Regions from separate parts of the Homo sapiens genome. Here region 2 is linked to region 1. Evidence: fine-mapped QTL for protein levels in blood plasma. A gene starts in region 1. The other region holds a variant in brackets. All regions are shown on one strand. Distances are between the middles of the regions.

Region 1 (11,940 bases):
AAGATTTTTCTCTAATTAGAATTTCTCTAATTCCTTTACTAAGGTTAGTAAAGACCTGGGGAGCCCACTGTTTTAGTTTCCTGGCAGGTTAACCTGGTCATCTTTCTTTTAACTCACACCCGTAGAGCGCTTTGTGTTTTTGTTGCTGTTACTAGTCCAGAGTTCGTCAAAATCCCCAAGCTGCCCCAAGAACCACCTCTCCACATCTTCCTTCCTTAGTGGGAAGTCCCTGAACTTCTTGAGGGGGTCTCAAGTTCTTTACAGATTGATCCTATTTTATTTTTATTAATTTAGTCCGAGGACACCAGGCTAAAAACTCCTGCTGCATTTCAATAAACAGTCTGTATATAAGCATTATTTTGGAAGATGAGTAATCACTTTCATCAGATTCCCAAAAGGGTTCATGATCCAAAAAAGTTTTAGAAAGACTGTTTAGAGCTTTGGGAGCCCTATATTCTGGATTTTCTAGAAAACACCAAGTTTCAAATACTCCATTCCATTTTCTCCATAAATCATTTAAAAAATGTCCCCCAAATGCCAATACTCTGGCATCCAGGCTCAATCTCACAGATTACCTTTTGTACTCAGAAGTGGAATAAACACTCTTTCTGGGACAAGGTACCCCATTTCTGAGCTCAGAAAACATAGACACTGCATGTTGTCAGGATTAGTTGGGACCCTCCCTCTTCTCATTTCATGGAAGACGAGACTGAGGCTTGGAGAGGTCTGAGCCCTCTGCTGTGTTTAGACCTATGCTTCTGGCAAGACTGGATCTGAAACAGCCTGGAGCAAAGCTCACTGTGCTGCCCTCCAGCTGAGGTGCCAAGAACCCAGAAGGAAATTCAGCCCTCAGAGTTCAGCTCCCCTCCCCTTTCCCCTGACCACACCTCAGCCTGGCCTGATTCCCTGACCAGGGCTCCCTCTGGCCAGTGCACCAGGTTCCCATCCAGGAGCTTTACCACACAGGTGACCACAGTCAACTAACTTCTGAGTGCCGAAATTCCAGCCTCCGATGGCTAACAGGGTCTTCAGCTTGGGATTCCTGGGAAAGACAGGAGACACAGCAGGATTTACTCTGCCAGCTCCCAGGGCACCCTGGCAGGGATGTTACAGTGGGGAGGAACAACAGGGGTGGGGACGTGTGAAAGTGCCTATGTGCAGAGACTGTATTAGGCATTCTGGGGACAGCTGTAGATTGGAAAAGGGAAGTCACGTTCCTGACTCACAGAACCACCTGTCTAACTGTGTGGGCTCAGGAAGCAAGGATTGGGGCAGATTCTCAAGAGGCTTTGTGAAGGCGCCCAGAACACTGGAGCTGAAGGGTGGATCAATTTCATAATGAGGAAGGGGCTTCATGGGAGACAGAAAGAGTCTCACAATCCTGATCACACTTAGACCTAAACTGGAAGGGACCTTTGGGATCCCCTAAGCAAACCCTACCTCTTTCATTAAGCACAGGAGAGCCCAGAGAGGTGATACAACTTGCCCAAAGCCACACAGTGGGTCTGTGGCAGGACCTTAGTGCTGGAGAGGTGTCTGGCTCTGGGAGGAGGTTATCTGTCACCCCACCACATCCCACCCACCCTGCTCCTCTGCTTTGGCTCACATCTTCTTCAGGCCATTGAACTCCTGGTAGAGAGTCTCGTCATTCCACTCAGTGGTGCTCAGCTGGTGGTTGGTCATGCCAGCGAAGGCGTAGATGAGGTGGGTGCAAAGGCTGGGGTCCAAGTCCTTGGGCAGGAAGCGAGCCTCCCCCTGTCTGTACTGGGCCCAGTTGGTGAAGTAGCAGACCAGTTTTGCAGCAGAGCCTGGCCCGTTGGAGTAAAGAAAAGGGATAGCTGTCAGCAGGACCTTCTGGGGACTGGTCACCCTCCATCTGGGGTAGGCAATGTCCTTGGACCTCCCTCTTCTACACCTGGAGTCAGTGGAGGGACCCGACAGGCAGAAATGGCATTTGCTTTTGTGTGGATGGAGTCTGGCAGTTGGGAAAGCATTTTCAGAGGCCAGACATGGGATCCTCAGAACACTGAGTGGGCAGGACCATCATCTTCTAAGCCTTCTTTTCCCGGGAAGCAAGTTGAGGCTCACGAGCTTGGGGCCCGTCCCCATCAGCATGGCTGCTAAGAGGGCAGAGCAGAGGTGCTGCGACCCAAGTCTCATGACTCCTTGACATCCTTGAAAGTTGCTAGTCTCAGAGTCCGAGCTCCCAGGATCAGGGTCTGGCAGGCAGGTCTCCCTATCCCCAGTTAGGGTCTCCCCTCCAGGCCCTGAAACCTGACAGAAGGTAGCCCCAGGCAGCCCCAACATGAGGCCTAGAGGGAATTAGACATGGCATGCTCATCTGCAGAAGGAAGGCAGGCAGAACTTTCAAAAACGGTTTGGAATACCTCAGAATACTTCGTTAAAATGCAAACAGATAAGTAGCAGAGAGGAGGCCCCAGTTACAGGCCTGGGTTTATGTTTCTTTAGTCTTGCATTAAAGCCATTTGCATTTGCTTGTTATCCCTTGTAGATAATCTACGTTTATCAATATCACTGCTGAGATTCTAATAGAGCTAATTTTATCTAGGAGAAGGCATCTTGTCTCTAAGTACCCCACACACTGTAGGGTACTTGTCTCTAGAGTACCCTACAGTGTGTGAAAAGACTTTGCAGGGGTGGGATGGTCTATTCCCAGTGAGGGCTCGGTGGTGATGACCCCCACTGAGGTCAGCCCTGTGCAGGGTTGACCAGGACACCAGGAAGCAAGAATGCTAGTCTTCATTCCAGCATCTGCCAAAAATAGACTTTGGGTCTATCTCATCTTCAATCCCGGCCCCATCTGATAATGACTGTGTGGTCTGTGGGGTCTCTTCCAGTCTCTCAATCTATGATGGTGTGGTTTGTATGAGCCAACATTTTATGCCAAGATCTTGATGGAGCAGTGAGTTTGGACTGGAGCGTGCCTGTGGCTGGTGTCTAGAACCTGGGACTTCCCTTTGCCCCAGCAGGGTCTGTCTGTACCCCCTCCAATGCCCACATGGACAGGGATGGGACGAGGAAGAGGAGGGGTGCAAAGTGTCTATAGGAGAGTTTTGGGAAGAGACCGCTCAGGCAGGCCTCAACTAGAACCCGAGAGCATGGAGGGCTGACCTTGGGCATACACGTGGCCCCGGAGTGGTCACTGTCTCTAACCAGAGGTCACCCAGGAGTGCAGCTTGCTAGTGGGGCTGGGGTGTAGCCTGCAATGATACAGGAGAATTGGTGAACTCCCCAAAGGAAAAGAAAGGAAGGAGGGGATGAAACCAGATAACTCATCCCCCAGGCCATGTAGGAAGGAGCCAGGAAGCTCTTTTTCTATCATGTCATGCTGTCGCATATCAAATATTGTTATGAATTTCTGTACTATGGAGAAAATAAAGTGCAGTGGTTAACAGCAGGGACTCTGGCATGTCAGTGTCTGGGTTGAAATCCCAACTTTGCAACTTACTCGCTGTGCGACTCAGCTTCCTCCTGTGTGAAACGGGGAGACCATTGGACCTTCCACAATGTGTGTCACAGGACCCCAGTGTGGGCTAAAGTTAATATATGTAAAACACTCGGAGGAACACTGCAAGGAAGAAGTTCTGTTCTAGGTGCTTCACATATATTAACCCTTAGTCCACACAAAGTCCTACTATTATTACTATACTGCAGAAAGCCCAGAAGTAGCCTGGACTAAAGCTTTTTGAGAAATCTTCCACCTCTCATCTTCCCCATGTTTGCTGTTTCTGTGCCCCCGGCTGTTCCATCCTATGAGGCTGAGAGGGAAATGTACCTCCAATGCTACAGCCCAGCGTGAGAGGCACAGTCGCAGGACAAGTTCTGAGAGGCCAGCATTCCCAGGCCACTGATGCCCAGGGAATGGGGTGGGACAAGACGGGGACCAGGAGTTCAAGTTGCTGAAGGTCCCCCAGGTCTCTTTTCCATTTGACACAACAAGGAGCTCCCTCCTGCCTCTCTCAAGCTCCACATCTGATCAGTTCAACAGACCAGAAGCAAGTGTGTTGTCCTCGCAGAGCTAAGGGGCTGGGGATGCTGAACCAGATGAGACTTAGGTTCCTTACCTGCAGCAACTTGGAGTCTGAGACTGGTGCAGAGAGACACCTAAGCCAATAATGAGAGGCAGTACTGTACTGTAAAACACACAGGTGCTGCAAGAGCACAGAGTGCAGAGGAGGGAGCCAGCAACCCCAGGAAAGGAAAGCCCTGAAAGAGGCTGATGCGCAAGCTGGCCCCACAGATGTGCAGGAGCTCAGCTAATGGATAAGGAGGCAAGAGCCTTCCTGGGAGGGCTGGTAGCAGATGGGGACATTTGCAGGGGTCTGAGCTTTGGAAGAGAGTCCCCACTGAAATCTGGAGCTCTTGGGGAGGTCTGGCAGGGAAGGTGTTTTGGGACATTAAGCAGAGCCCAGGGAAGGGGCTGAGGCAGCCAAGAAAGAGGCTACTTACCCCATGGGATCATCAGCAGGACCATGAAACCTGGAGCAACACAAGAGAGAAGGCCAGGGTTATGCTGCCATTCTCACCTTCCCAGGCCCCACAGCTTACGGAAGCACAGGAGGTGGTCAGGGAGGGCTGATTTCATACAAATCAAGCTTTCTCCTTTCAGAAGGGACCCAGGAGGGCACTGTGCCCATCCCTTCATGCAGACCAGACCACGGGGGTCTCTTCCTGGCCTGGGTTGGTCCTAGAAGCTGATGGAAAGTTCCATGGGCTGAGGCTGCCCCCTCTCTATACCTCAGTAAAGGGCAGTGTGGATTCAGGAAGATTGTGGAAAAACTGCTGACTTGTGAGTTATTTAGAGAGATAGTTTCTCTTTCGGAACAAGAAACAAGCCTGTTTTGGGGCTAGAAAGAATCAATCTGGAAGGGCTGCATGGAGAGAGTTCATCTCCTGGGGAGGGCCTGTGCCTCTGCTCCCATCGTTTATGGCTTCCTGTTGCCTTTCCGCTACCTGGCTGTGGTAGGCAACCACAGCCTTGGAGACCTAGGGTCTGACAGGACTCCTTCGAAGAGATCTCTTTCACCTGGTGACCTTGGACTTCTCTGTCAACCTAATAGAACCTCCATGAAAATTTGCAAGGATGCCCAGGATCTTGGCCCCAGGCTGCCCTCTTGCAGGACAGACAATATGAGGTTGGAGAAGAGGTTCTTGGCAGTGGGCGCTTCTTGGATAAGGCCAACAGGAGGGACCTAAGAACATGGGAAAGACACAAAGACCCAGTGCAGGGGCCTCATTGACTCTGGGCTTTCAGGACAGAGAGAGGAAAGTCAAGTCATCTTCAGCCTGTTGAGAAAAGCCTTCCCTTGCAACATGAAGTCTCTTGGGCTGAAAGAGCCTAAGGGGGAGCCCACAGGAAAGGTAATCAAGGGACTGCAAGCCAGGAGGCATGGAGAGGGATAAAATGACCCTCTGAAGTTCTCCTGAGTCCTCCTGCTTCCTTGCAAATGGTAGCAAGTGGTCCCTGAACATCCACATCCCCACCTCCCCACAGCTCCCGAGACCCAGCCCACTATCCGACGGCTCACCTGCCCAGGCCACAGACCGCACCATGATGCAGCTCAGCGGCAGGCTGCAGCCCATACAAACCAGCTTTCCAGGTCCTGCTCTGCTTTTATCTGGCCACCCTGTCCCACCCCAGCCAGGAGTGTTGCAATCAGGGGCACTGGGTGGGGGGGATGGGAGCAGGGTGGGGAGGGGTAAGATGTCAAGCAGCATGAATTGGGCAAACTTGACACAATGGCCTTTAGCAATTCTTGCTTTTCTGGAACAATCAGAGGGTGACTCTTAGTGTTGCCAAACAGAGGAAAGCGGGAAGTGGCCCTGAACCTCCTGATGGATGAGCATGACCCTGACTTTCTTTGTGTAGTTGGTGAGGACCATAAGCAGCCCCAGACTTAATAGGGCTTTGGAGGAAGAGAAATGACTCACGAGTCAGGCAGCTGGGTTCCAGACCAGCTCTCTTGCTTCTCCACTGCCCTCTCTCAAACTGTTTCTCCATCTAGAAGATAATGGGGTTGCAAATATAATTTACTTTTCATGATAGTAATAGTTGCATATCCATTGATGGAGAAAAATAGATAATGATAAATAGTGACTATAAGTTTGGTAATGGCTTGAAATGCCTATGTTTCTTATGAAGAATAATAATGGTGGACATTTGGGCCAGGCATGGTGGCTTACACATGTAATTCCAGCACTTTGAGAGGCCGAGGCAGGTAGATCACCTGAGATCAGGAGTTCGAGACCAGCCTAACCAACATGGAGAAACCCCATCTTTACTAAAAATACAAAATTAGCCTGGCATGGTGGCACATGCCTGTAATCCCAGTTACTCGGGAGGCTGAGGCAGGAGAATTGCTTGAACCCAGGAGGCGGAGGTTGTGGTGAGCCGAGATCGCGCCACTGCACTCCAGCCTGGGCAACAAGAGTGAAACTCCATCAAAAAAAAAAAAACAAAAAAAAAAAAACAGAAGAATGGTGGACATTTGTGTCGGTTTCCCAGAGCTTCTGTAACAAATGGCCACCAAACAGGTGATTTGAAACAACAGAAGTTTATTCTTTCACAGTTCTGGAGGTCAGAAGCCTGGAAACAAGGAGTTGGCAGGGCCATGCTTCCTCCGAAGGCTCCAGGGGCGAATACTTCCCAGCAGCTTCCAGCTTCGGATGGCCTGTGGCATTCCTGGGCATGCAACGGCATCGTTCCAGCCTCTGCCTGCCTCCATTTTTACACGCCCTTCCTCGCTGTGTCTCTGTATGTCCCCTCCTTTCTGTCTCTGAGAAGGACATTCTAATCCAAGATGATCTCATCTTGAGATCTTTACCTTCATTACATTTGCAAAGACCCCTATTACAAATACAGTCACCTTCTGAGATTCCAGGTGAAGTTATCCTTTGCGGGGGGTGGGAGGGGGTCACCATTCAATTCACCACAGGACCCAAGTGGGCACATATTACTGTAATGTCTGCAGACAATGTCTGGTGTATGCATGAACTCCAGGGTCCCTGAGAAAGCTCTGCAGTTTCTAGGGGATCCAGTCTTTGGCCGGTGGGCTTAACATGAATGGCCTAGATGGCCACGTGGGAATATTGGGTGCGGCAGGCTGTGGAGTTAGGTTCCTGAGTTTGAATTCCTCCTCTGCCATTTACTATCTGTGTAAACTGAAGTGAGTTCCTTAATTTCCCTGAACTCCAGTTTCTTCATCTGTAAAGGGGAATCCTCAGAGGACTGTTGGGAACGCACTCCATGGTGGCTGCTATTATTCCTGGTTCTGCCAAGTGCTGCCACTTCTGCTGGTCTAGGGGTGTCAGAGGGCTCTAGTAACCTCTTCGAGGCCCCTGAGAGTGTTGGACCTCAGCACTCAGATGGACCAGCCCTAAGTCCTCCCTTTCCCTGCTGCAGTCATGGCTTCTGTTTCTGCTGTGGTCAGCCCTTTCTCTTGGGGATCCTGCAAAAGAGCCTGTTCAGGGTCACCTGAGATGTGCAGAGGTGCCTCAGCTCCTTGGTGGTGGGGGAGTGAGAGTGGGATGCAGGAGTGAGGACTGGGAGGTCCTGAGCCTCGGGGAGGAGAGGCTTCTCTGGAGAGTTAGGGGCCACCTTATCTCGCCCCCGCCTCCATATACACAACTGACCTGTCAGTTTCATGAATTTCTCGCTATGCCTCATGTCCCCAGGAGGACATGCACTGCAGTGCCCAGAATCTGAGTTTCTCCAAACACTGCCCCATCCCCTATTGTCTTTAGGTTTTCTAGAAAAACAGATCAAAAATAATAACAGAGTTTGGTAATATGGCTGGATTTAAGGTGAATGTACAAAAATGAATAGCTTTTCTCTACATTAGCAATAACCAATTAGAAATAGAAGTGAAGGAAATGTCTGATTCACAGAAGTGTCAAAATCTATAAAATATTTATAAATAAATTTAATAACAATAATAAGTTTAATAGTAGAATCTATAAAACTTACCCACAGGATATAAATTTGCAATAGGATCTGAACATGTTCTTGCACGGGAAAACAATATCATAACAAATGTCAATTTTTGTCAACTAAAATACAAAACCAGTAATGATGGTGACACACTATACAAAACTTATTATAATTCCATTGGGATTAAAATAGCATGGAATTGCCACCAGGACAGACAAACAGAGGTAGGTCTGAGCATATATGGAGAGGGTGTGTGCAATGAAGGTAGCAGTTCAAATGAATAAGAAAAAGATGTTTTATAAATGCCAATGACTTAATTGTCTACCAATCTGGAAAGAATCAAAGTTAGGCCCCTCACACCATATACAGCAGAAATGACACGTGGTAAATGAAGGTGGGCACAGGGAGCAAAGGAGCTCAAGGAGAAACACCAGCCAGGGTGGGGTGGGAAAGCCAGTGGAGTGATGCTTGAACAGAGCTTTGAGAATAAGTAGGTTGCTGGACAAAGAGAGAAAGGGAAGGAAGTTATAACAAACACACCAGATGTTCACTGATGGAGCCTCTCAGTGAGGAAACTGCCCACGATACATGCAGGGACAGTGGGACATCATTAAAAACTCTGTGTCCTGTCGGTTGAGAACCACTGGTTGAGGTAGGCAGGTGGGGGTGATCTCTGCTGAGGGGCTCTGTGTAAAAGGGCACTGGACATGGCTGGAGGGAGAGGAGAGAGATACAATGCCTTGCCAGCCTGGATTTATTTTACAGTATGCCTCAGTCTAGTAGGGCACATCCTGGGCTCACCTGATGGCCAGACCTGAATTGCAAGATTTCAAGGAATAAGTCCCTGCCTGGAGGCTGAGACCTGGGAGCAGAAGGCAGGCCCATGTCCACCAAAGCTGGGGAGGAGCCTTCCCCAGGGACTGACCCAGAGTTCCCACCTAAGTAGGCAGGTCCCAGCCACCAGTACAGATTGCCCATGTGTAGAACTGAGAGGTCTCTGATGCCTTCAGCAAACTTCAATTAACAGCCCACCACACCTTTGCTCCTAAATTGTGTCCCTCCTGGGGCTGCCCTCCCTGGCCCTCAAGTCCTACAGAGATCACTCTGAGTTAAGCCTTGCCTCTTCCACAGTCAATGTACTCCATACTACCTTCTGCTATCTTGGAACAACTCCTTCCATCCAGAATAGGAAAGAACCCTGGCTTGGAGACAGACAGAACTGGGTGTATCTCAATGGATATCACCAATAAATTACTTTCATAGATTTTATACTCTCCTTTCCAGCCCCATTGGCTTCTCCCACCCCTTTCTCAGCCACTGCCAAAGCCCAAACCAAGTAAAACCAGTGTGCTTGATATAAAATGAGGCTTCAAAGCAAGTCCCCGTCCCACCCTACTGCAGAGCAGATGCCTGTATAGAAATTCTAAAGCTTCTGCTGATTTGCATCCAACCTGGCTGGCTGAGCTGGGGCTAGTCACAGCCTCTCCAAGCCTTGGTTTTCTCATCTGTAAAATGGGGATAATACTACCTATCTTATTTGGTAATGATGTGGATCGAATAGATAATGTGTGAGAGGGCTTTGTAGGTGGGAGGACGCCAGCCAGATCTCATGGGACTGCATCTTGATGGTTGGTATCACACCTTTTTCTCTTGCTTCATGTGAGCATCTCATCTCTGTAGCTGGACTGTCCATAGCCAGGCAGAGTGGGGCCTCTCTCCACACCTCTCTATGTGTCCCTCAGCACCAAGCATACAGGGGGTCTTCAATTAATGTTTGTTAACTGTTCCTTCCCACGTCCCACCGTGTTCTTCCCCTTAGCAGTAAAAGACATCACCACCTATCCGGGTCTCCAAGTCACCCAGGAAGTGTCCTTGATCCTTCCCTTTCCTCACCCTCAATGATCAGGACCTATTAGACATCCTGCCTCCTGCTCCATCTCCTCCACCTCCTAACCACCGTCAACTCCCACCCTGTCCCCAGAAGAGCCTCCTACCTGCCTTCCTTCCTAATTCTCTTGCCTCTGCAATCCATTCTCCACACAGCAGCCAGAGTACACTTTGAGAAACTTAAATCAGATCCTGTTGCTTTCCTGCTAAGACCTTGCAATGGTTCCCACTTAAAATAAAATATCAACTCCTTAACTCTACCTCTAGAACACTCTAACTCTATTCTTTCATTAGGACAATGTTCTTTCAAAGGACACCTTCTTGGCAGGGAAGATAATTTATCACTGGACATAACTAAATTAAAAAAACAAATTTTTGAAGCCTCTCAGGCTCACTTATCCATTGTGCCTGGAGCTGAGGCGTTAGATCAGGTGGCAGAAAATCTTTATGGACTAAACCCCACGACTTTGATTAAGTCTATTGGAGGCCCCACTCTAGTAAATTTTGGAATTATGTTTCTCTGTTTAACCAGCTTGTCTTTAGTGTGTCAGACAAGTCAAAGAATCCTGCATCAAAATCGAGAGAATGAACAAGCCTTCATCGCCATGGCACATTTATATAAAAAGAAAGGGAGAGATGTTGCGGGAAGTCAGGGACCCTGAACGGAGGGACCGGCTGAAGCCATGGCAGAAGAACATAAATTGTGAAAATTTCATGGACATTTATTAGTTCCTCAAATTAATACTTTTATAATTTCTTACGCCTGTCTTTACTGCAATCTCTGAACATAAATTGTGAAGATTTCATGGACATTTATCACTTCCCCAATCAATATTCTTGTGATTTCCTATGCCTGTCTTTACTTTAATCTCTTAATCCCGCCATCTTTGTAAACTGAGGATGTATGTTGCCTCAGGACTCCGTGAGGATTGCGTTAACTGCATAAATTGTTTAAACAATATGAAATCTGGGCACCTTGAAAAAAGAACAGGATAACAGCGATGTTCAGGGAACAAGGGAGATAACCATTAGGTCTGGCTGCCTGACAGCCAGGTGGGACAGAGCTATATTTCTCTTCTTTCAAAAGCAAATAGGAGAAATATCGCTGAATTCTTTTTCTCAGCAAGGAACATCCCTGAGAAAGAGAATGCATTCCTAGGGGGAGGTCTCTAAAATGGCCGCTCTGGGGACATCTGTCTTTTACTGTTGTAGATAAGGGATGAAATAAGCACCAGTCTCCCGTAGCACTCCCAGGCTTATTAGGATGAGGAAATTCCTGCTTAATAAATTTTGGTCAGACCGCTTGTCTGCTCTCAAACCCTGTCTCCTGATAAGATGTCATCAATGACAATGCATGCCCGAAACTTCATTAGCAATTTTAATTTCGCCCCGGTCCTGTGATCTCGCCCTGCCTCCATTTGCCTTGTAATATTTTATTACCTTGTGAAGCATGTGATCTTTGTGACCCACACCCTATTCATACACTCCCTCCCCTTTCGAAAATCACTAATAAAAACTTGCTGGTTTTGCAGCTTGGGGGGCATCATGGAACCTGCTGACATGTGATGTCTCCCCCGGACACCCAGCTTTAAAATTTCTCTCTTTTGTACTCTTTCCCTTTATTTCTCAGACCGACTGACACTTAGGAAAAATAGAAAAGGGCCCACGTTGAATATTCAGGGGCGGGTTCTCCTGATACCTTTGCACCTGCCATTGCCTCTGCCCACAATGTTCTTCTCTGTGATCTTCACACAGCTGGCTCCTTCTCCTCATTCATGCTTTTCCTGACCACTCATAGAAAGTAGTGCCCTCCCCTCAAGTCACTCTCTGTTCTCTCCTGATGATTTATTTTCTCCTAAGTACTTTCATGGCTGAATTCATTCATTCATTCATTCATTTGTGTGTAGTGTCTGTTTCCTACCACTAGAATGTAAGCTTCATGAGAGGAGGGACTTTTCTTGTTTAGTCCTCTTTGTCTAGTACCCAGAATATTTCCCAGCACATAGTAGGTGCTTAATCCATATCTATTGAATTAATTAATTAATTAATGTGACCTCTCTGCATGATCTGGCCCACTATGATATTGTGATATAAGAAATGTA
Region 2 (11,940 bases), 25 kb before region 1:
AAGGTTAGAAAGGCAGGGAAATAGATTCTGCTCTGGAGACTCCAGAAGGAACACAGCCCTGTGGACATCTTGATTTTAGCTTTATCAAACTTATTTTAGGCTTGTAACCTCAAAAAACTGTAAGACATTAAATATGTGCTGTCTTAAGCCATTATAATTTGTGGTAATTAGTTATAGCGGCCACAGAAAACTAATACAGAGATTGTTTTCTCCATTGACAATGAGGAAGCAGAGAGCAGGTGACCTTTCCAAGTCACTTGGCTGCTAAATACAGAGCCTGTACTGGAGCCCAGTCTCTAGGCTTCCTTTGACCAGGCATGGCCCAAGGCAAACCTGAGTGCAGGGAGTGTGAGGACATGCCTGAAAGTGACCTTTCTCCTGCTAGGCAAGGGCCTGGAGGAGGTGAAACCTGCGTGGTCTTCAATGCCCCTGACATTTGAAAGAAAGTGCCAGCTCCTCAATAAAAACATGCTCGAGGCAGACCTACCCAGGTTGGCACTGGATGAAGACCTCCCTGGTGGGGAGAAAGAAGCAGCTGGATTGCATGATCCCTACCCTGTCCCTCGGATTCACCAAGATGCACATTTCCCTTGAGAGGTTGTAGCCAAGGTGGTCTCAGGGGCACTGGTCACCCCTTAACACTCTGGCCCAGGAGGTGGCACAGTCCTCCCCCTGAAAAGCAGAGCCTGAGCCAAGGCATTCAGATAAGACTCAGGGGAGGCTTGAGGGTGAGGCAGGGGAAGTGCACGCTTTGAGGTGGGTCCTGGACAGTCAGACGTTCAAGCTATGCTCGACTCCTGATTCCATACGGAGGGCGCCATCTGTTTAGGGACCCCTGTTGAAAGATGCACCCCTGCTCCCAAGTCGGGGCCCTCTTCCATCTCCCTAAGGCTAGTCTTCTGAGCTCTGGTTTCCAATAAAGATACAACCTTTCCCCAGGGATTGGAGCTGGGCACCTCCTCTTTGTGGAGACAGAGCTCTCTATCTACAGACATGACCTGACTCATCACTCAGGCCACAGCTGAACCGAGAGAATATAACAGTCCCCCAACATCCACATCACTTCCACACTTCCACTGTTTGGGTAAAGCATTACATTACTCTCTGGAGCCCAGAGTCTTTTGGCTGAAAGACTAATTCACTCCATTATTCATCCTGAGGGGCAAGGGAGACTTGCTATGGGTGCCAAGTGCCCAACACATGCTATTCCAGTCACAACCCGCCCTGCCGAATGCTGGAATGGAGGTGTTGGCCTTATCCCTCTCAGTAGGTGAGCAAACGGAAGCTGAGAGAGGATCAGTGCTTTGCCCAAAGTCGTGCACATTTTATGTGGTTGAGCAAGACTTGAACTGAATTCAGCTCTTTCAACACTGAGTGCGAGGGTTGTTTAAGTAAGGCTGCCCTCATGGGATAAAAGGAGAGTGGGAGGAAAAAGAGAGAGAGCCAATATTGTAAGAAAATTCATGAAACACAGTGGGACAATAGGACAGAACAGTTGAAACTGGGACTGTCCTAGATAGCTGGTATAGATCTTGCCAAGAAAGGAAGTCAGAAGCTAACTATAGACTGAGGACCACGGGTGTAAGAACACGGTCAGTCCCTGGATTCTGCCACTTCTCCTTGTTGGTAATTTTCCATTCTCCCCACTGCTCCCCTGCAATGACTAGCACATAAACCCTGAAACTGAAAGGGACAGCTAGGAAGCAGATAGCCAGTCTTTGTCCAGTTCTGCAGCTATTTTAGGGAGAGAAAGAAACTCAACAATATGGTGTTTATGAGGAAAGTTTTGAGAAAACGTAAAAATAAGCGGAAAGGAGAGTGAATCTTTGGTGGCTTAGAAGGATAAACTAAAGAGCTCACAGGAGTCTGCCAGGGACTAAGGGCAGCATGTGTTCATTCTTTCAGGAAAGAGTTACTGAGCCCCTATTAGGTGCCAAGTCCTGGGCTAGGGTGGGGAGAGTGAGGAGTGGAACCTCCTTTAGTTAGGACAGTCAGGGAGGCTTCTCCGAGGAGGTGATCTTAAGCAGAAATCTGAGGGATGAGAGGGAGTCAGCTACCTCAAGAAGAGAGAAAATGATCCAGGCAGAGAACACCATATGCAAAGTCCTGGAGGTGAGAAAGAGCTTAGTGTGTTGGAAAAAAAAAAAGAGAAAAGCACAAGCAAGCTGACCAGCTGGCTAGAGTAGTTTGGGGATGTGGGGAGAGACAAGAGGCCCCGGGGAGAGAGGCAGGTCTGTGTCCTGGGGCCTGTGGAAACCACAGAGGGGTTTTGTCCTCTGTGCAATGGGACACCACTGGATGTTTAAGCAGGTAGTCCAGGATAGAGTTTATGTTTTGGAAAGTCACTCTAGTGGCTCTGTAGGGAATAGATTTGTGGTATGGCAAGAGTGGAAGAGGCATGAACATAAGCAGCTGTTAAAGAGGTCCAGGCAAGAGATGCGGTGGCCTGCCCTGGGCTGGGGACGTGGAGGTGGAAAGAAGGGTGGACTATGGACATTCCTTGGAGGGAACATCCGCACACTTACAGATGAGTTGGATGTAAAAGGATGAGGGAATAGAGGGACCAGGAACCACCCAGGGGGTCCTACCTTTAGCAAGGTGGACAAGGTTGTGCTAATTGTTTAATGTGAGGAATTCATGGGGTGGAGATAAGTTTTAGAGTAGGGGGTCTGTCTCAGCCATATTAAAGAACTGTTTATGCCTTATCTGGGTAGAGAGAGCAAGCGGGCTGGTGGATACATGCATCTGGAGCTTGGAGGAGAGGTCTAGGCTGCGGATACAGTCATTGGTGTCAAGATGCTATTTAAAGCCATGGGAACGGATGAGTTCACGTAGAGCAAGAAGGGCAGAAGCCCATGCCTGAGCCCTGAGGCATCCTGACATTTAGAGATCAGGTGGTGGAAGAGACCCAGAAGGTACAACGGCAACTATATCATTCAGCCCGACATCCACAGGCCCTGCAGGTTCAGCCCCAGTCTGCCAGGTGCTAGGGCCAGCAGAGGAGGGGGACAGGGCCCTTGCCCTCAATGGGCCCAGGGTCTATGTAGAAGGCAGTTGTTGAGCCAATACTTACAATATAATATGGTAAAGATGGGCCCAGGAGAAGGAACTAGAAGAAATGACTGTGGTCCCAGGTCCCAGAAGCTAGGGCTATGACTGAGTCTGGGAGGGGCCATGGGCCTCAGAAAGATGGAGAGAAAAGTTGCAGAGGGCCAGGCGCGGTGGCTCATGCCTGTAATCCTGGCACTTTGGGAGGCCAAGGCAGGCAAATCACGACATCAAGAGATCAAGACCATCCTGGCCAACATGGTGAAACCCCGTCTCTATTAAAAATACAAAAATTAGCTGGGTATGGTGGTCGGTGCCTGTAATCCCAGCTACTTGGGAGGCTGAGGCAGGAGAATCGCTTGAACCTGGGAGGCAGAGATTGCAGTGAGCCGAGATTTCGCCACTGCACTGCAGCCTGGGCGACAGAGCAAGATTCTGTCGAAAAATAAAAAAGAAAAGAGGCAGAGGCTGGGAACTATTCCAGGTCTGGCATCCTTCCCTGAGACCTCCAAGTCCCCTTGAAGCTTGTTGCCCATCCTTCCCTTCCGCTCGCCGCCAGCCTCCCACCCCACCTCCTAGTCCGCCTCCAGTTTCTCCACACTGCCCGATCTTCTTCCAGCAGAGCCCCTACCGCTCATGAGTAACAACATGGAGCCCTGCTCATTCCTCATTCCCATTCCTACCCCAGGCCTCCAGGTCTCCACCCCTTCCCTGACAGGCCAGCCTTCTCAGGAGATGTGTTTTCTACAACTAGGATTAACTTGACAGGAAAATGACCACAGCCTGAAGCCTTGCCCTCCATCAGGGAGGGATGCTGTCTCCAAAACAGTTGCTTCATTTCCTGCTGTTGAGAAATCATGCCTGTTGACCAGCTTACATTTCACATTACTAAGAAAGGAGAGAAATCTGCCCTGCTGAACTTCTTAGACAGAAACTTGGTTAACCCCCTGGGTTTGTGGGTGAGGGTCCTGCACGAACCCCCTTCCCTCCTGTCAGCTGCAAGTGCAGCGGCTGGGCTGCTGGTTTACATTGCTGCCTGGGTCATGGTGCCCACTCAGTTCGCTCTCTCCCATGGCTATGTGCAGTCCACAAACCTGGACCGTTTGGCCTCAGCCTCTCTCCATCCTTATCCCCTCCTGCCTCCCGGGTCTTCGCGTGCCTGGTCCAGTCTGGACACACCCTGGCCCTCAATCTGAGGTCATGGCTCTGAGTCTCATGGCTGACTGCCTGAGACTGCAGTGAGGTCTGAACCCTCATTCAAAACTCGATCTCAGTTCTGTTGTTTCTTTACGTTAGGGTCCCCACAGATCATCCAACCAGAGGAAATTTCCTCTGAACATATTTAATTTGTTCTTTTTTAATTGTTTATGACTCATTTAATCTTGAATTATAATACTTTGTGGGCATGCCTTATCCCCTCTCTTCTAGACTCTATAAACTCCAGAAGCTCAGGCCTTGAATCTGGAGTCAAATCTCATTTATCTTCATCCACAGTCTCAGCCAAGAGCTTGGACATGCTTGTGGAATGGATGAGTTTTGATTAGAATTGTAGAAGGAGAATTTGAGCTGATTGATATGGGAAATGCAACCTAGGGATTGATTTGTTGGTTCTGTACAAAAAAGTACCACTAACAGCTAGGAGCAGAGTCTATAAAGGGGATAGAGAGCAGTTCATTTATTCACTCGTTCATTCAACAAACACATATTAAGCATCTACTATTTGCCAGAAGTAGTATTAGATTCCGGAGATATAGTAACAAACAAGGCTGATAAAGTCCTGGTCACATGGAGTTTCTCTTCTAGCTCAGAAAGACGGATAGTCAACAGCAAACAAACAAACAAACAAAAAACAAAACAAAACAAAAAACACCGCGCAGCAGTAAGTGCCATGATAATAAACAATTTGGAGTGATGTGAGAGAGTGACAGGGAGGTGGTTGAAAGGACTCTCTGAAGAAGTGATGCTTAAGGGGAGACCTGAAGGGTAAGCTGGGCTGCTATGGGAAGATCTGGGCATGGAAAACCAAGCCCAGGAAGCAAGAATAGATCAGACCAAGTTTTGAGGTCAGGGCAGGTGGGGAATAGAGATGGGACGAGTTTAATGGGTTCAGAAAACAGAAAGAAGGAAAGAGTAGCTGGATCATTTGTTCATTGCCTCATGGTGATCAAGGGGGCAATGAACAAAGATAATCAACAGTTCAATAGGAAGATAATGGCAAGGTAGACAATACAAATGGTATAGTATCAACAGCAGAAGCTTTGATCTGCGGATGAATTGGAGTCCTGGCCAATTGTTATGGTGTGTGAGCTTGGGCAACTTTTCTAGGTCTTACTTTTCTCAAGCCTAGTTTTTAGAGTTCTTGCAAAGATGAAATGGTATAATAGAAATGAGCATCTACCAAATGACTTTGTGTAAATGGTAGCCTACAATCCAGGTAATAATCTGAAAACCAGCCTTACAAGATCAGGGTTGACCAGAAGCATGGAGCAGAAAGTAATGACCCAGCAGCTGGGCCTAACGAGCCCTCCTTGCTGCTCCTAACCTCATCACCCTCTTTCCCTCTCCTTTCCACTGGCCTGCCCTTTCCTGCCCTTCACGTTTTCCTTATTTTTCTCTAGTCTTTCTCCTTTTCCTACCACAATTTCTCACTCTTTCTTTCCTTTACATTCTTTTAAGTCACACCATCTCAACTGCCTTCAATTTGGAAAACATATTCTAACATATTGATCATGTTTATTTTGCATGGTTTTGTCTTCCTTTAAAAATCAGGTGTTCTGAATGTTTTATACATCTTTCCTAATTAAAAAGAAACAGCAGCAGCCACATCAAACTTCAGTAATTTTATACAGTGATGTGGCCCTTGTATGATTATGATTTTCCACTGAGGTCACTGCCCCTTAATAGAAAATGGCTCCCACCACTGGATTAAGGGATTAGAAAGAGATTGTCTCAAGGCATTTAGGGTCTGGTGTGCTGGGAGATCTCTCCACTGGCAGGGAGGGGAGGTCTGGATGTGTTCAAAGGTCAGTGGCCTCTGAGTCACTGCAGGGATGCTCTGGAGCACAGCCTGGGCATCTGGCTCCACCGCTGGCTGGCTGAAGCTCAGTGGTTGCTGCAGATGTGGAACCCGAAAGGTGGAAGGGCAGGGAAGGCCTGTGGGGTCAGCTAGTGCAGACTGAGATCCTGAGGAATCTGTAAGGACAGGCTCTGGTGTGAAGTGCAATGTAAGACACCCTCCCTCCCATTGTTCCAGGCCCCTGTGCTTGGCCAAGAAAGGACAAGTTTCCTCTGCAAGCATGCGTGTTGCACAAGGGTGGGGTGTGTGTGTGCGTCTGCTCGTGCACATGCATACACGTGTGTCAGGAGGAGGAAGCCATAGAGCAAGTCCCCCATGTTTAGCTCAGGATGATATTGCAAGGAGTCTTCTGGATGGGGGATCAGGGTGAAGAAGTGATGCTTGATGCCAAGTGGAGACTCTGACCCTCCCTTGCTTTCCTTATTTTCTGAGAAGAGGTACCCAGTGGCTGGCAGTGGCCAGCTGTGGCCAGTAGGTCATCTAGTCCAACCTGCCGACTGTACAATGGGACACAGAGGACTTGGGATGAGAAGT[G/C]ACTTGTCCAGGGGGCAAAGACCTCTTGATCTTCCCTCCATACCAAGTCACATTTGCGTCCAGGCGATGGCAGTAGGAAGATGGTGGGGTGACATTCCTTCTGTACTCTGACTTTAGGGGTCCCAGATGTCGAACATGAAGCCCTGTCCTGGCTCATGTTATGGAGCCAAGTCCCTTCATACTCCAGGGTTGGGTGAAGTAGCTCTGGGTTGTGCAGCAGAAGGCAGCCCAGGACTTAACCGTGGGCACAGATAAGCCACATGTGGCATACAGAGAGCTAACTTTAAACATGGAGAGGGTGGAGGTTTCCACCTCTAAGGAGGCCCAAGTAAGGTCATACGAACTAAGGCTACAGCTTGGCCATCTTACTCTAGATGCCAGGAAGGAGCTTAGGGAAATAAGGGCACCAGCGGGTGGGTCTGGGCTGGTTTGGGTGGACTGGCTCCCCCGTGTCCCTGCTGCTCTGCTTCAGACGAAGGCCAAGGACAAGCAGTGGTAATGGCAGTAGTTGTGGACACCGGGTCCTTGTCCCTTCCCTCTAGATGCCCCCCTTCTCAGGTGACCCCTTTACTGTCCCCCCTTGGAGTGTGATCTCCAAGGGTGGAGCTGCTGAGTGGGTAGGGGGACTGGGAGGTGCCCTCACCTAAGCCTGGGCTTCTGCTTGCCTGGCCTCATCAGTTTATTATTGGCCCGGGTGACAGCTGGGAATGGCAAGGACACCCTGGAGGAGGGAGTGGGTGGGGCTGGGGCCATCCTAAGCCCCCAAGATCCCACATGCCTGTGGTGGGGGCCAAGGAATGAAAGGAATGTCTGCATGCTCTCCCTTCCTCACTCCCACCCTGAGCAAAATGAGGCGAGGCCCAAGACAAATGTCAATGTGGGCCTTTGGAAGGGTTGTTTCTTTCCTTGAGATATATTTGAAATACATTTGTTGCCTTAATGCCTGAATTAATTAAGAGGGATCTGGCTACTTTCTCTTGGCACCAAGCTCTGAACAAGGGGAAATGGGCATTACTAACAGGAAGAGACTGAATGAGCATAAAGAGCGCTTGTTAGTAGTTAATCTACCCTAGACCAGGAGGTTGCATCTGGGGAGGAGGCCTAGGAAAAGCACGGTGTGGAGGAGGGGGTTGCCGGGAGACCCTGCAGCTGCACCCAGCTCCACCAACCTTTCAGACGCACCCCTGTCTACTGCTTTGTCACCTTTTTCATTCTGCATCTCAGATGGAGCTGCTCTCTTAGCCAGGATCCCCTTCAGTTCCCCCCAAACTCAGCAACACCAGGCCCTAGAGTCAAGGGACATGCATTTCCCATGTGAGAGCTTTATACTGTAGGAAAAGCGGCATCTTCAATGGCATTTACAATTGATAAAAGAAAAACTTCAGCTGGGCGCAGTGGTTCATACCTGTAATCCCAGCACTTTGAGAGGCCAAGGAAGGTGGATCACCTGAGGTCAGGAGTTCAAGACCGGCCTGGCTAACATGGTGAAACCCCACCTCTACCAAAAAGACAAAAATTAGCCAGGTGTGGTGGCACGCACCTGTAATCCCAGCTACTCAGGAGGCTGAGGCAGGAGAATCACTTGAACTTGGGAGGCGGAGGTTGCAGTGAGCTGAGATCACTCCACTGCACTCCGGCCTGGGCGAGAGAGTGAGACTTTGTGTCAAACAAAACAAACAAACAAACAAACAAAAAACAAACTACAGCTGAAAGAGTTTAAGGAGTTTAATTGAGTTTAATTGAGCAATGAACGATTCACAAATTGGGCAGCCCCTAGAATCACAGCAGATTCAGAGTCTCCAGGGGTGCCTCGTGGTCAGAACAAATTTACAGACAAAAAAGAAAAAGTGAAGTACAGGAATTGGAAGGGAAGCACAGAAACCGGGAGATTGGTTACAACTTGGCGTTTGCCTTATTTGAATGTAGTTTGAACATTCAGCAGCATATCAGTAATTGAAGTATGGCTGCTGGGATTGGCCAACACTCAGCTATTGTTACAGGTGCACACTACTAAGTTAGGTTTTCAATTTTGTCTGACTATTAAGCTAGGTTACAGTTCATCCACAAGGACCCAAATATGGAAGTATGGAGTCCTTCTCAGGCCGTAGTTAGTTTGCTTTAACACAATGTAGGGAAAGGCTGTACCTGTGGGAGGGGACATGGAGCCAGGGGAGAAGAAAGAAGGAGGGAAGAATGGAGGGAGCAGGTTTATTGAGCCTGGATCCTCTGGAGATCCCTGGGGGAATCTGTGGATTCCTTCAGTGAGAGAAGTGAGGGCAGTGCCTCAAGATGAACAACCTCCCCAGAAGGTTCTTAATTATTCGTGGCACTTTCAACAATCTGGTGTCACTCAGCGACTTCTGGGAAAACCACAGGTTTATGGCATCTGCTCTATCCCTCTCCAGGGACACTTAAGAGGGACAGATGGGAGGGAGAGAGCACTAGCCACTACCTTGATTTTATGTCAAATAAGGGCTCTTGCACAGGAAACAGAGATGCTGAGTTCTGAGTAAGACAAAAGCAAGCTCTAATGCCACTTCCTACCACCCTCAGTACCATTTGGGGAGAAAGAGGAGGATCTTGGCCTAAGAAGGGACAGAGAGTTTCAGCTTTCTACCTACTAGAGGGAAAATAGAAAATGCAATAGCCCTGTAGCCAACAAAGACACTAAATCAGTGGTTAAAAATTATCCTTAAAAAAAGCATCGAGCTGATGGCTTTACTGGTGACTGCTACCAAATGTTCAAGGAGCAGATAAGTCCTTTTAACACATCTATCAAAAAATAGAATGAGGGGACCTTCCCAGCTTGATATCCCAGAATCTTGATACCCCAGATCAGTTTATTATTGGCCTGGACAACAGCTGGAGGTGGTGAGGACTTCCTAGAGTGTAAGAAAGAAAACATGCAGGTCCATCTTACTCACTAACATATGTGTGAAAATGTGAAAAAAAAAAACTAATCCAGCAAATTACAAAAAAAAATTAATATAGCATGACCAAGCTGGCTCAATCCTAGAAATGTAAGATGAATTTAACAGGGGAAAATGAATATGATTTATTACCAGAATAAAAGCAAAAATTTATAAATGGAAAACCATATGACAAAACTTACATCCATTCTCATAAAAACTCCTGGCAAATTAGGAGTAGAAGGACTTCTTTAGTCTTGTTAAAGGCATCTATGCAAAACCTACAATAAATGGCATATTTAACACTGAAATATTGAAAGCATCCTCTTTCAGGCCAAGAACAAGACAAAAATGTCCATTATCACTGCTTACACTCACCACTGTACTGGATGTCTTAGAGCAGTTTGCAAGACAAATAAACAAAAGTTATATGGTTTAGAATGGAAGAAACAAAACTTATTTCTGCAGATGATATGACATGACTACCTACATAGAATGCTGTGCAGAATTTGCAGAACAATAATCATCAAACTTAATCAGAGAGTTAGAAAAGTTGCTGGATACAACATCAACATACAAAAGTGGCATTACCATACACCAACAACAGTTGGTTAGAAAATTTAATTTTTACCATGGATAAAATTTATAACCGTAATCAAAAATTTAAAATACCTAGGAATAAATCTAATAAAAGATGTATGAGACCTTTAAGAAAAAATTTATAAAATTTTATCAAAATATATTTAAGAAGACAACTAGGGCCAGGCACAGTGGCTCACACTTGTAATCCCAGTACTTTGGGAAGCTGAGGCCAGGAGTTCGAGACCAGCCTGGGCAACATAGGGAGACCCTGCCTCTATTATAAATAGAAAACATTAAAAAAAGCAGTAGAAGACAACTAAACAGATATACCATGTTTTTAGATAAGGAGACTTAATATCATACAGATGCCAATTCTTCTCAATCTATAGATTCAGTGCAATTATAATCAAAACCTGGACAGAATTTTTAATGGAATTTGGCAATATAATTCTAACATATACATGGAAAAGTAAGAGCTAAGAACATCCAAGACATTTCTGAAACAAAGAACACAGTATAAAGATTTGCTGTAATAAATATCAGGATTTATTATAAGGCTTTAGTAATTAAGATAGTGAGTTATTGGGGCAGCAAAAGAAAAATACACCAATGGAACAGAAAGATTCCCATGTGTGTACAGAAACATAATTTGTTTCAGGGATGGTATTGTAGGTTAGTATGAAAGGGATAGATTATTCAATAAATAGTGCTTGAATAACCAGTTATCCGTATAGAAAAAAAATTAGATACAACCTTACAGCATATTTAAATGGCAATTTCAGTAAGACTAAAGGCTTAAGTGGGAAAAAAGCTACAAAACTTTTAGAAGATAATATAGGAAAATAGCTCTTGACTTCAGACTAGAGAAAAATTTCTCAAGATACAGAAAGTAAAAACCATAAAGAATAAGATTGGTAAATCTGACTACATTAAAGGCACCTAAGGAGAATGAAAAGCCAAGCCTCAACCCAGAAGATTTAGCCAAACCTGCAGTCATGAGTGGATTTGTGTTCGGAGCATGGAAAGAACGCCTACATTTCAGTAAGAAAGATATAAACAACCCAATAGAAAAATGACAAGAGACACATTGGACTATTCACAAAAGACAAACACATATTGCTTATAGGTATAGGAAAAGATGCTGAAACTATAATGAGTAATTAGGACAATGCAAGTTGAAACTCTAACGGGATACCATTTTACATCTCTCAAACTGGTATAAAGTATGATATGGTAATGGTGAGGATGGGATACAAGAGAATTCTGCTGACGGGAGGGAAAAGTTACACAACCGCTTTGGGAAAACACGTTGCCTGCACCTGGTAAAATTGAACAAGCACATAATTCACATCCCATTAATTCTACTCCTAGGCATATTCTACACATATGCACTAGGAGACATCCTCAAGAGTGTTTATAGCAATATTGTCCACATTGGCCACAATCTAGAAACAACCCAAATGCCTGTTGACAGTGAAATATGTAAGTCATGGCATACTCTTATGATGGAATACTATACAGTAGTGAAAATGAGTTACAGTCATGTGGAGCATTGGGCCACAGAAGATACCATACAGTGTGATTCCATTTATGTAAGTTTCAAAACTAGTGCAAACTAAACAATTTTATTTAAAAATGCACACCTAGCTGGTAAAACTACAAGAAAAACAAGAAAAGGAATAACCAAAATCTAGTTAGAGGGCTATGGGATTAGGGAGGGGCACATCAGTCACTGTTCATCAGAGGCTGCTAATGTTGTTTCCTTACCTGGGTGAGGGATTCATAAGAGTT

What was found. A credible set is the group of variants that fine-mapping cannot tell apart. PIP is the chance, under the fine-mapping model, that this variant and not a neighbour inherited with it causes the effect. Protein levels are from the aptamer-based SomaScan assay of Sun 2018.
Region 2: its variant is the best candidate, but not a certain one, in a credible set for the plasma level of the CHIT1 protein (Sun 2018, PIP 0.90).

What each region holds. Positions count from the first base shown.
Region 1 is chr1:203,224,063-203,236,002 of GRCh38, forward strand. CHIT1 (chitinase 1) reads right to left here and starts at 5,611. Exons shown (of 11, transcript NM_003465.3): 1 at 5,550-5,611; 2 at 4,471-4,500; 3 at 1,607-1,808; 4 at 986-1,042. The coding sequence starts at 5,574.
Region 2 is chr1:203,198,884-203,210,823 of GRCh38, forward strand. No RefSeq gene overlaps it. Among named protein-coding and RNA genes, the nearest start is that of CHI3L1, 18 kb to the left of the region's middle. The variant G/C (reference allele first, on the strand shown) is at 6,659.